4 separate regions of the Homo sapiens genome follow, and all the other regions are reported to be linked to region 4. Evidence: microRNA targets listed by miRTarBase, many of them from high-throughput screens and not tested one by one. Region 4 holds a microRNA gene; each other region holds the end of a gene's coding sequence. Distances are from middle to middle.

The links. Region 4 holds the annotated microRNA hsa-miR-3681-3p (ACACAGUGCUUCAUCCACUACU, at 1,008-1,029, shown strand). A microRNA usually pairs through its seed, bases 2 to 8, with sites in the 3' UTR of a target mRNA and lowers its output. Matches are read on the target gene's strand: a 7mer-m8 pairs with bases 2 to 8, a 7mer-A1 pairs with bases 2 to 7 and ends in A, and an 8mer does both.
Region 1: miRTarBase lists MBL2 as a target of hsa-miR-3681-3p. The part of its 3' UTR that is shown has no 7-base or 8-base seed match.
Region 2: the mRNA of WDCP is a reported target of hsa-miR-3681-3p. Seed matches in the 3' UTR shown: 7mer-A1 at 2,015-2,021.
Region 3: miRTarBase lists SHOC2 as a target of hsa-miR-3681-3p. Seed matches in the 3' UTR shown: 7mer-m8 at 1,831-1,837.

What each region holds. Positions count from the first base shown.
Region 1 is chr10:52,765,330-52,768,514 of GRCh38, reverse strand. MBL2 (mannose binding lectin 2) reads left to right here. Exons shown (of 5, transcript NM_001378373.1): 5 at 5-3,135. The coding sequence ends at 378. Among named protein-coding and RNA genes, the nearest start is that of MBL2, 5.9 kb to the left of the region's middle.
Region 2 is chr2:24,028,213-24,031,397 of GRCh38, reverse strand. WDCP (WD repeat and coiled coil containing) reads left to right here. Exons shown (of 4, transcript NM_025203.3): 4 at 236-2,051. The coding sequence ends at 465. Among named protein-coding and RNA genes, the nearest start is that of WDCP, 18 kb to the left of the region's middle.
Region 3 is chr10:111,011,597-111,014,769 of GRCh38, reverse strand. SHOC2 (SHOC2 leucine rich repeat scaffold protein) reads right to left here. Exons shown (of 9, transcript NM_007373.4): 9 at 1,105-3,160. The coding sequence ends at 2,952. Among named protein-coding and RNA genes, the nearest start is that of MIR548E, 24 kb to the right of the region's middle.
Region 4 is chr2:12,198,167-12,201,351 of GRCh38, forward strand. It overlaps MIR3681 (microRNA 3681), which reads left to right and starts at 964; the gene lies at 964-1,035. All of the region lies in intron 3 of MIR3681HG (MIR3681 host gene), which reads left to right.

The DNA.
Region 1 (3,185 bases), not on the chromosome of region 4:
TTAGGGCTCACCTTCTCTCTGGGCAAACAAGTTGGGAACAAGTTCTTCCTGACCAATGGTGAAATAATGACCTTTGAAAAAGTGAAGGCCTTGTGTGTCAAGTTCCAGGCCTCTGTGGCCACCCCCAGGAATGCTGCAGAGAATGGAGCCATTCAGAATCTCATCAAGGAGGAAGCCTTCCTGGGCATCACTGATGAGAAGACAGAAGGGCAGTTTGTGGATCTGACAGGAAATAGACTGACCTACACAAACTGGAACGAGGGTGAACCCAACAATGCTGGTTCTGATGAAGATTGTGTATTGCTACTGAAAAATGGCCAGTGGAATGACGTCCCCTGCTCCACCTCCCATCTGGCCGTCTGTGAGTTCCCTATCTGAAGGGTCATATCACTCAGGCCCTCCTTGTCTTTTTACTGCAACCCACAGGCCCACAGTATGCTTGAAAAGATAAATTATATCAATTTCCTCATATCCAGTATTGTTCCTTTTGTGGGCAATCACTAAAAATGATCACTAACAGCACCAACAAAGCAATAATAGTAGTAGTAGTAGTTAGCAGCAGCAGTAGTAGTCATGCTAATTATATAATATTTTTAATATATACTATGAGGCCCTATCTTTTGCATCCTACATTAATTATCTAGTTTAATTAATCTGTAATGCTTTCGATAGTGTTAACTTGCTGCAGTATGAAAATAAGACGGATTTATTTTTCCATTTACAACAAACACCTGTGCTCTGTTGAGCCTTCCTTTCTGTTTGGGTAGAGGGCTCCCCTAATGACATCACCACAGTTTAATACCACAGCTTTTTACCAAGTTTCAGGTATTAAGAAAATCTATTTTGTAACTTTCTCTATGAACTCTGTTTTCTTTCTAATGAGATATTAAACCATGTAAAGAACATAAATAACAAATCTCAAGCAAACAGCTTCACAAATTCTCACACACATACATACCTATATACTCACTTTCTAGATTAAGATATGGGACATTTTTGACTCCCTAGAAGCCCCGTTATAACTCCTCCTAGTACTAACTCCTAGGAAAATACTATTCTGACCTCCATGACTGCACAGTAATTTCGTCTGTTTATAAACATTGTATAGTTGGAATCATATTGTGTGTAATGTTGTATGTCTTGTTTACTCAGAATTAAGTCTGTGAGATTCATTCATGTCATGTGTACAAAAGTTTCATCCTTTTCATTGCCATGTAGGGTTCCCTTATATTAATATTCCTCAGTTCATCCATTCTATTGTTAATAGGCACTTAAGTGGCTTCCAATTTTTGGCCATGAGGAAGAGAACCCACGAACATTCCTGGACTTGTCTTTTGGTGGACATGGTGCACTAATTTCACTACCTATCCAGGAGTGGAACTGGTAGAGGATGAGGAAAGCATGTATTCAGCTTTAGTAGATATTACCAGTTTTCCTAAGTGATTGTATGAATTTATGCTCCTACCGGCAATGTGTGGCAGTCCTAGATGCTCTATGTGCTTGTAAAAAGTCAATGTTTTCAGTTCTCTTGATTTTCATTATTCCTGTGGATGTAAAGTGATATTTCCCCATGGTTTTAATCTGTATTTCCCCAACATGTAATAAGGTTGAACACTTTTTTATATGCTTATTGGGCACTTGGGTATCTTCTTTTGTGAAGTACCCGTTCACATTTTTGTATTTTGTTTAAATTAGTTAGCCAATATTTTTCTTACTGATTTTTAAGTTATTTTTACATTCTGAATATGTCCTTTTTAATGTGTATTACAAATATTTTGCTAGTTTTTGACTTGCTCCTAATGTTGAATTTTGATGAACAAAATTTCCTAATTTTGAGAAAGTCTTATTTATTCATATTTTCTTTCAAAATTAGTGCTTTTTGTGTCATGTTTAAGAAATTTTTGCCCATCCCAAAATCATAAGATATTTTTCATGATTTTGAAACCATGAAGAGATTTTTCATGATTTTGAAATCATGAAGATATTTTTCCATTTTTTTCTAATAGTTTTATTAATAAACATTCTATCTATTCCTGGTAGAATAGATATCCACTTGAGACAGCACTATGTAGGAAAGACCATTTTTCCTCCACTGAACTAGGGTGGTGCATTTTTGTAAGTTAGGTAACTGTATGTGTGTGTGTCTGTTTCTGGGCTGTCTATTCTAGTCTATTTGTTGATGCTTGTGTCAAACAGTACACTATCTTAATTATTGTACATTTATAGTTGTAACTATAGTCCAGCTTTGTTCTTCTTAAAGTCAAGATTTCCATATAAATATTAGAAACAGCTTCTCAATTTCTACAAAATCCTGATGAGGTTTCTACTGGGACCACATTGAGTCTATCAATCAACTTATGCAGAACTGGCAACTTACTACTGAATCTCTAATCAATGTTCATCATGTATCGCTTCATGTAACTAGAATTTCTTTAACTTAATTGCTATGTTTTGACATTTTTAGTTTAAAAACCTTGTATATCTTGTTTTGGTGGTTTTAGTGATTTTAATAATATATTTTAAATATTTTTTCTTTTCTATTGTTGTACACAGAAATACAGTTAAGTTTTGTGTGTAGTCTTACGATGTTTAGTAAACTCAATAAGTTTATTTCTTAAATCTAGTAATTTGTAGATTCCTCTGGATTTTGTATATGCATAGTCATGTAAGCTGAAAATATGGCAATACTTGCTTCTTCCCAATTGCTTTACCTTTTTTCTTACCTTATTGCACTGGTTAGCAACCCCAATACAGAGACCACCAGATCAGGTATAGACTCCTGAAAGACAATATAATGAAGTGCTCCAGTCAGGCCTATCTAAACTGGATTCACAGCTCTGTCACTTAATTGCTACATGATCTAGAGCCAGTTACTTTGTGTTTCAGCCATGTATTTGCAGCTGAGAGAAAATAATCATTCTTATTTCATGAAAATTGTGGGGATGATGAAATAAGTTAACACCTTTAAAGTGTGTAGTAAAGTATCAGGATACTATATTTTAGGTCTTAATACACACAGTTATGCCGCTAGATACATGCTTTTTAATGAGATAATGTGATATTATACATAACACATATCGATTTTTAAAAATTAAATCAACCTTGCTTTGATGGAATAAACTCCATTTAGTCACATTTTATCTTGTGTATGTATTATTGGAGTGGACTTGTTAATAGTTTGTTTA
Region 2 (3,185 bases), 12 Mb from region 4:
GTAGCCACCACATTGAACATCAAATATCATTTCATTTTTTCCCCTTTTTCTCCTACCTGACCCTAAGTAATACCCAGTCTTCCCAATACCCCATTCTCTGTAAAATCTTACAAGGATTGAGTTGAATATTATCAACTACTATATTCCTTCACTCAGAAAAAAAAATTTGTAGTCATATGTTTCATCATAAGAATAATATATACTAAATTGCCTGTGTATTTATTTTTATTTGCAGATTCCCACTGGATTCTTCTCTCTGCTGACAGTGAGGGCTTTATCCCGTTAACCTTCACAGCCACACAGGAAATAATCATAAGAGATGGCAGCCTGTCCAGGTCAGATGTCTTCAGAGACTCTTTTTCTCACAGTCCAGGTGCTGTTTCTTCTCTTAAAGTCTTTACAGGCCTTGCTGCCCCCAGTTTAGATACCACTGGCTGTTGTAACCATGTAGATGGCATGGCTTGATATCTGCAGTGTCCTTGCTGTGTAGCTCTTCAGATGAGACCATTACAAACAAGGCCTGCTTGACACTGGACACTCGCCAATGAGACTCCCACTGCACTCAGGCGAAGCGCTTGCCATGGTCGGCTCTCCTGGTTTCCCCCTGTTTCCCCTGAGCTGAGGCTCGCTGCTGTGTAGCAGAGCTCAGTCTTTATTAGATGGCTCCGAAAGTGGTGTTTATGTATTCATGACTGTGTGGTTTTGACTAAGGGCAGAATTCTCAGAACAAAACAATATTATGGTGCCATATGGATGGTGTTTTATGGTTTCTCTGAGGCTTTGTGTCCCTTGTCCAAAGCTGCATTGAAGCTGTCTTAGGAGCACTTAAAAGATACCTTGGCATTGTTATAGGTCTTTTTCTTGGCTTCAAGAGGAGGTTGAGGAGTCTGCTGGGGGGCATGTGCTCTAGCATATTAACCTCAAACCAGCAAGAATTAGCAGAGCTCCAAGGAGGACCAGAGACCCACTGGCTTCTGCTCTCAGGAACAGGAAGTGGCTCTGATGTTGCCTGGACCTCCCAGAATTTAAACCAAACCCTCTTGCTTCCTTAACAAATTCTGGCTGACGAAGGTCCAGGTACTCTTAAAAACTGGCCCTGGGAAAATTTTGAATGAAATTTCAAGGGAATTTGTCCCCTCTGGGTTCCACTTGAGGTTGTGCCGATGCTGCTACCACACTGTCGAGCCCAGGTAAGTCCTACTGCAGGATTTTGTGCTGTGGCCACTCATGAGTGTCCCTGAAATAACTTTTTTTTTTTTTAAATCCAGTTTTGGGATCACGCAACTTTCCTATTTTTCTCCCAGTAGTCAGCTCCCTTAGTTAACTTGTCACTTTAATTTGATATTTTTATTTTCTCTCCTTTTAAGTCTTAGAGACCAGCAGAGAATCTGTGAGAGAAAGTATTTCAGGAAGTTAGAAATTCAACCGAATCTGAGGTAGTCCTAAAAAGTGCCATTTTGTTTCACTTATGGGCTAAAGTACCAGCTTAGTCAGGTAAGAGCCCTGACCCACTTCAGATGGTAACACCACTTCTCACTGCCTTCAGATGGAATCACAGATTTCAGTCACGGCGCATAACAAATTGATCAGTGAGTGGCTAGGCATCTGCAGATAAATTGTTTCAGCCATAGAAGCTCCATTAGCACATATGCTTCCTTTTCCCCCCTTCCTTTAAAATCATCTGGAAAGAAACTATTTTGTGCCCTTGGGGACTCCTGTCTGTCTGTTACAGTTTACCAAGATGGAGCTGGGTTAGGAAAGAAGTGAGGGCCCATTTTGTGGTTCAAGTGCACTAGACAGCTGCTGGGGTAGGAAGCACAGGCAATGTCTGTAATCAGCTGTGGGAGAGCAGTGACTGAGAACAGTCTGAGGCCTGGCTCCACTTGGAAGTATCTGGGGTGCGATGAAATCACAATTATCTTGAAGCCTAAAGAGGGAACTACAAGACTGTTAACTAAGATCAATGTGGGCACCTAAAAGGGTATGTTAAAATCACCATTTCTCAGGTCAAAATACTGTGAATAAGTCTTCAATAAAATCACTAATGGTTATTGTGGCTGTTTTGGATGTTTTGGTAGTATTTTCTTTGCGATTATTGCTGCTATAGAGGAACCGGCAATAATCTTGCAGTTATATATGCATATGTTGTCTGTATTCCTTCTTCTGGTGGACAGTCCAGAATATAAATGGTTCTTTACAACAAATCTGATTCCATGACAACTCTCATACAAGAGATGTTTCCTTGACCTCTGCTATTATTACAGTCACTGGAACAATAGAAAATAATCTCATATTTGCTGGCTTTGGAGGCAGGGAGAAAAGAGCTAAATTCTTCAAAGGATTGTTTAATGTTCTACAGTCATGCACCACCTCGCCTGGCTAATGCTTGTATTTTTAGTAGAGACGGGGTTTCACCATGTTGGCCAGGATAGTCTCGAACTCCTGCCGGCCTCCTCTTTCTTTATACCTTGTGTGTTGGACAAACATTTTAATTTTAAGGAAGCCACACATTTACCTATCTTCCTTTTTATGGAAGTTTTGTCTTCATATTTATGTCTTTAATCAGTATTCTGCTGGATAATTTTATTTGTTTGGGGGGTTTTTGTTGTTGTTGTTGTTGTTTTTTGAGACGGAGTCTTACTCTGTCGCCCAGGCTGGAGTGCATTGGCACAATCTTGGCTCACTGCAACCTCCAACTCCCGGGTTCAAACCATTCTCCTGTCTCAGCCTCCTGGGTAGCTCGGATTACAGGTGCCCGCCACCACACCCATCTAATTTTTGTATTTTTAGTAGAGATGGGGTTTCACCATATTGGCCAGGCTGGTCTCAAACTCCTGATCTCAAGTGATCTGCCTACCTCAGCCTCCCAAGTGCTGGGATTACAGGCATGAGCCACTGAGCCCAGCCTCTGCTGGATAATTGAGGGGTCCCTCTGCAGAGTTCCTGACTTCATGCTCTGCATTGCTCTGTGTGGTAAATTTCATTTGCCAGGTTTTTTGTGTTCTTTTTTTGAGACAGAGTCTCTCTCTGTCGCCCAGGCTGGAGTGCAGTGGTGTGATCTTGGCTCACTGCAACCTCTGCCGCCTGGGTTCAGGCGATTCTCCTGCCTCAGCCTCCTGAGTAGCTGGGATTACAGGCGCCTGCCACTGTGCCTGGCTAATTTTTGTAGTTTTAGTAGAGATGGG
Region 3 (3,173 bases), not on the chromosome of region 4:
CTTTGGAGGCTGAGGCAGGAGAATCGCTTGAACCCGGGAGGCGGAAGTTGCAGTGAGCTGAGATCACGCCACTGCACTCCAGCCTGGGTGACAGAACGAGACTCTGTTTCAAAAAAAAAAAGGAAAAAAAAAAAGGAAGTAACAGATGAAAAGCAAAAGGTTATAACAAAAATTTACAGAAAATCTAGATAAATTTTAATGTATAATAACTTATCTATTTTAAATGATTCAAGCTACACAATTAGATAAATTAGAAATTTGCAATTACATTTTTTAGAGATCATTCCCATTGCAATACCTACATTTTAAGTACAAATAAATGTTTTATGTGTATTTTCCCTTCCTGTATCATCTACTGTTTTCACTTGTATCTATAAAGTTCATAAATTATTTAGCACTTCCTCCTTTCTGTATAAAATAATCATGTGGGATTTAGAAAGTATTAAACTCAGAAAAGGACAGCTTGGCATTACCATTGCCATTTTTCTGCTACATATTAACAAAAAGCAAAGTTTAGAGCAATGTTTTTATAATGTAACATCCTCGGACATTCTTATTTTATTTGCTGAGTCTCATGGAGAGACTAAATATAATTTCTTTAAAGGAAAGGAAAATTTTTGGATATGCCAATTAGTCCCATTGCAGTTTCAGGAAAAAGTATTAGCTCATATGTAGTCTTCAACAATATCCCTTATTATATTCAAACTATTTAAATATTAAATATCTTGATTTCACAGGGATATCTTAATCAGAGTCCATTTTAGTTTCTTGGGAAATAATGAAATTTGTGGGCTCTCACAAGGTGACAGCCTACAGAGGATATACATTTTATACTTCTTTAAAATTTTTTATAACTTGTCATTATATTGTTTACACACAGCATGACTTCTACATGTAAGACTGATCGTTTTACATTACTGTTACAGATTAACATAAAGGTGGAACAAAAATGCTTTAAAAACCATATTTTCATTTTAAGAAACAATAACCATTTTTTTTAAGAAAAGACATTTAGTTACTACCTTTAAAGTTCAAGTCCCAACATCTTAATATATAAACACACCTGGATACGAGATTTAAAAAACCACACAAACACACAAGCTCTAGGTAGAGCTGTAATAAACAAATTCCTTTTATAAACAAAATTTTAACTGAAAAGCCACAGCAGATGGGGGGAAAAAAAAAAGAAAGGATATTACTTGGTAAAATCCAGTGACATCTACAATAGTTTTACAGCACATTTAAGCATTCTAGGGTTTTATATCTTCACCTGCCTTCCATTTCTTAGTTGATCCTTATAAAATCTCTCATTACGAACATAGGTTTGACCTCAAAACTAGTCATGAATTTGAGTGCCAGGAAAAGCAGAACAACAGTCCAAATTTCTATCTTAATATCATAGCCTTAATTCAAAAATGGTTTTGTGTAAAACACAACGCCCAACTAAATGGAAAAAAAAAAAAACACACAAGCAGCAATATGTAATTATACAAAATAGTGATTAATTATATATGAAGTGTTTTTTAGGATGACATCTAGAACGCACCTTGCTCTGAGACTCCTCAATAATCAAATTGACTTAGACCAACAATACTGCTAAGTATTAAAAGCAGTGAAGCAAAGAAAACGCATCAAATAGTACATGCACATCTTACAGAACTTCCACTGAACTCCCCAATGGCTTCTATGCAATGTGCCTCTTTTCCATAACTGTATTAACAACTACCAAGAAAGGAAAGATGAGATTAAAAGTAATGATACTGAACTGAATTGTTTGAAGCCAGTGCCCCATATGTGGGGAAAAGTGCATTTAGTTCAGCAGCAATACAGCACAGTGTGAAGATATTGTGCTTAGACACAGATATTCCAGAATTGAAAGATGTACAAGGCAAGTCAAGATATAAAACCATAGTACACTGTTAAATAACCTTGAAACATACATACATTGCAGTTTTCAAAGAAAGACATTCATGTCATTGTACAAGGATAGGAAGAAATCCTTAAAGTTACCTACTGTAGTTTATGATATAATAAATACATATCTATATAGCATTGTATATACATATATAGATTGTGTGTGTTTATATGTAATTTATTTGCCCAATTATCCTGTTAGTTTTGTGGATCTGCAACTTTCAGGAATGAAAAAACTCCTTTTCACTGCAAGTTTCTCTTCCCCCAAACTTAAAAAATATTCATACTAGAAAAGGTCTCAATACCCTTCCCCTACCCAAAGACTCACTTCAGGTATTTTGCTTCACAACTCGTCAGAGAAGCAAAATTAAAGAAATTCTAGATTTTTGACTGTATCTTTTCACTTTGCCAGTTTTTTTTTTCAACAAGCAAATACCTTTCACTGTTTACACCAGTGGATGCAAATTCTTTAGCAGAGGATTCAAACTCTAGATTTGACTGAATAAAACAGAGCAAATCAAAACAAACAAAAGAAATCCAGTGATTTACTCTGACTGTAAACAATACATAAAATTTAAATCTCAAATCTCAAAATAAGTTAAAGAAAAATTCTACTTTCAGGGCCTACAATACTATAAGGATAAAACAATTGGTAAGGGGAAAATATATATGAAAAGTTGCAACAAAAATTTTTGCCCATTATTTTTCCTAAGAGAAAGTATATCTAACTATACTACCTCTGTCCCTTAAATTTAATAACTTCATAATGTGTTGGCAAATGTTTTAAGCAAACTGGCATATCAGATTACACAACAGAAAAACATCCATCAAATTCAGCAAAGAAAACTTATATAAGCCTTTTGTACAGAATTTAAAAAAAATTCTAAATGGCTATGATTCCTCTATTAGCAGAAACACATAATGCAATTTTTATAAATCTGCCATATACCAATATCTACATAAATAGATACAGATATAGATAAGAAACATTAATGGCAGTCTATTTTTGAACAGTGTGTGGGACCAGCAGATTTATATCAGACCATGGCACGATATGGACCCTGCATCTTTAAGAACTGAATGATGAAAGAAGGCCCCCCAGCAACAATCTGAGGTGGAAGGTGACTGAGTGGACAGTTCTCAATACTCATGATTGAAAGCTTGCTGCAGAGTGCCAGCTCAAAGGGAAGGCTATGCAGGTTGGGGTTGTCATTCAAATACAGTTCTTCTAGGTTCTCCAGTGTACCTGTTTAAAAAAA
Region 4 (3,185 bases):
AACAACCTTAGTGCTCCTCTTACCTCTTTAACATGATGGATACCATTGGCCCTTCATTAAATTGTCCTCAAACTACTGAAGCTTATAGTTTTTGGGGTCCCCTGGTGCCGTCCCCACAATGCACAATGCTCCTACACTTCCCCCATCTGAATGCAGGCCTCTTTTCCCTGCACACACTGAGCTTCATCTTCCTGACCCTCGGAGTTATCTGAGGCACCTGACTCCAGGTTCTAGAAAGTGAGATTCTCCATTATTTCTTCTCCCCACATTCCCTGGGCCTCACCTACCTGGAGATTATCTAGAGCTCTCAGCATGCTGCATGAAGAGCCTCCAGGTTTGAGTGGACCCCAGCTCCTGGGAGGCTCTCAGACTCCTTAGGAGCAACCCCAGTGACACCTTTCAGCATCAGGCGTCACTGCTGCATGCTCATTTCCTTCGCCAATCACTGCATAAACATGATTTATCTGTTGTACAGAGAGGCAACAGAAGCATTAGAACATTTGAGCTCCTTTTCCTGGTTGGCTGGAGGGGGCACTTACTTCTAGTAAGCGAGGTATTTAACATCTCTAGTCTATCATACACCAATTATTTAATATTAATTTTTATACATGCAACATTGGAGGACTAGGATTTGCTTACCTGTAAGGCCTTTTCTATCAGGATAGCATACTTTAAAGAGCCTGGAGAGGAACATAATTTTCCTTTTAAAAATAACAATTCCTGCCACGGAAGATGAATCCTGTAAGCATGCGAGCAGAGAAGCTGTACTGGATGAAGAAATCCTGTGCCCCTTTGGGTTCCCTTCACTATCTGACTGTCTCCTTCCCTCTAAAGCACAGCCTGCCTCCCAGACCTGCTTACCAACAACCTCTGATGGGACGTCCACGAGATGGCTGGAAGTCCCCAGCCTGCCTGGCTCACAAGCCCTGCACACCAAGCCCATCTTCAAGGAGACACTTGTCTACTTCCAGTAGTGGATGATGCACTCTGTGCAGGGCCAACTGTGCACACAGTGCTTCATCCACTACTGGAAGTGTCATGAGCTACTGTTCAGGAGTCCAGTGCAACCTGGAATTCTGAGGGTGTTAACTGTCCAAGTGGCAAATGGATCAATGGAAACAGGAAATAGGAAGGAGCTAGCTGGGTTATTCCCCCTCCTGTGTTTCTCCCATGTGCTACCCCAAGACAGAGATATTCGTTGTAATTTTCCTGGACAAGCCTAGGGCTGCCAGTTGTAACTTCAAGGCTTGTGGGGAAGGAGCAGCAAGGTGATGCATCACTTCACCTGGCATCCCAGATTTCTTTGCCTTTACTTCACTTCTTCCTCTCTTTCCTGGGTTTGCACATCCCAAATAAAGTCTTAGGTTTTTTTGTCTCAATGGCTCAGGCTAAGACAGAAGCCCAACTGTGAAGGCTACTCACGTTCTCACCCTGCTGTATCGTAGAATGGAGCTGAAATACAAAATTGAGATTCAACACATTCAGTCCCGACCAGAAACATTTCAAGGAAATCTGTGCTCACAGCAAGATTGAGTGATGGGACACAGCGCTTGAGATTTCAAGGCAAATGCTTTTTATGTCGTACTCAACATGATTAGCTTCACACGTTACCAAAAAAAAAAAAAAAAAAAAAAAAAACAAAAACCAAAAAAACCCCACAAAAAACTGACTCATAAAACATGTATTGATGTTGCATTTGGGAACAGCTGCAGCCAGCCTGTGTGCAGAAATACACAAAAATGATTATCTTCCTAAAATCAATCTTTGCAGTTCTGGAAGAAGACAGAAGACGGAAATAGCTCTTTGTGGAGCTGAGTGACATGTTCTGGCCAGGCATTCTTTGTTAATATAACAGATGAGAATTAGACAAATTGGAGCTGGAAAGCGCTCCTGTCATAATGTGGCTGATGGGTCTGTGGAACAGCAGCAGCCATGCCTGCAGGATGTGCTCACTGCTTTCCTGAGCTCCTTTTAAATAATCCAAGCTGTGACACTTCCCTAAGTGGAAGCTGATCTCTAAATTAGGTGAAATGTTAATATTATGTAGTTTAATCCATCCTTGAAGTCAGAGAGTTTGCAGAGGGGGTGGCTTGGGAGCCTCCTGATGGATTGTTCATTCATTCTTTCAGGCATTTATTCATTCATGTATTGAATTCAGAACTGCCCAGTAGAGCTTTCTGCTGTGATGAAGGGTCCCATAACAGCACTTTCTGATACTGTAGTCGCTAGCCATTTGTGACTACTGAGCACTTGAAATGGGGGTACAAGATGAATTTTTTATTGTATATGATTTCAGTTAATTTAAATTTGAGTAGTTAAATGTGGCTAGTGGCTACCGTATTGGATGGTGTAGCTAAACATTCATTCATTTAAAAATATTTACTGGATATCTACTAAAAGGCCTCTTAGAAGGTGCTTGGTAAATATTTTAGGGGAATAGTGGGTACTCAATATATATATTTTTAGTGACATGAGGAAGGCAAGCTGGGTCCACAAATATTTTTAGTAAAACAGGGACTAAATATTGTAAAACACACATACAATTTTATGAGACTAGATATACATATATCTGATGATAGAATAACTTATTTTATTAATTTATTTTTAATTCTATTGGTTTAAAATGGGCAAGGCAAAGATTAGGTATCTCTTCATGTCAAAGATATATTTGTGTTGAACCTGGAATGGAATTCCAAGCAGAGAGAACAGAGAAGGATGAGTAAAGGGTCCCAGAAATAGCTCTTTGGTTCATAGTGGATAAGACAAGAAGGGTCTAGAGGTTACACAAAGAGGCATAAGGATTGTGCACTATTTCCATCCAGGAAATATAAAGGCAAATTTTCAGCATGTTCAGATTAGAAAATTTATTGTAAGAAAAAAAAAAAAAAAAACACAAGAGAATTTCTGATTAGGATACAGAAGTTGTAATCACAAGTTGTTCATCAATCTTTTGTCATCCCCCAAACAAACATTGGTGGCTTTTCCAATGGCCTAGATCTACCGACTGAATTATGGCAAGAGAGTCCCAGGCAAAAATCACAGGACCCCTTGTCCTTAGCAGATTGTCTCAAGCACCACTTACTTAAATGGGTAGAGTCAAGTTCCCCATAAACAGCAAACAGTGATATGGCCTGGTGTTCACATTTGAGGAATTATTATTTTATACTAGTAGCAGCGATAAGTTT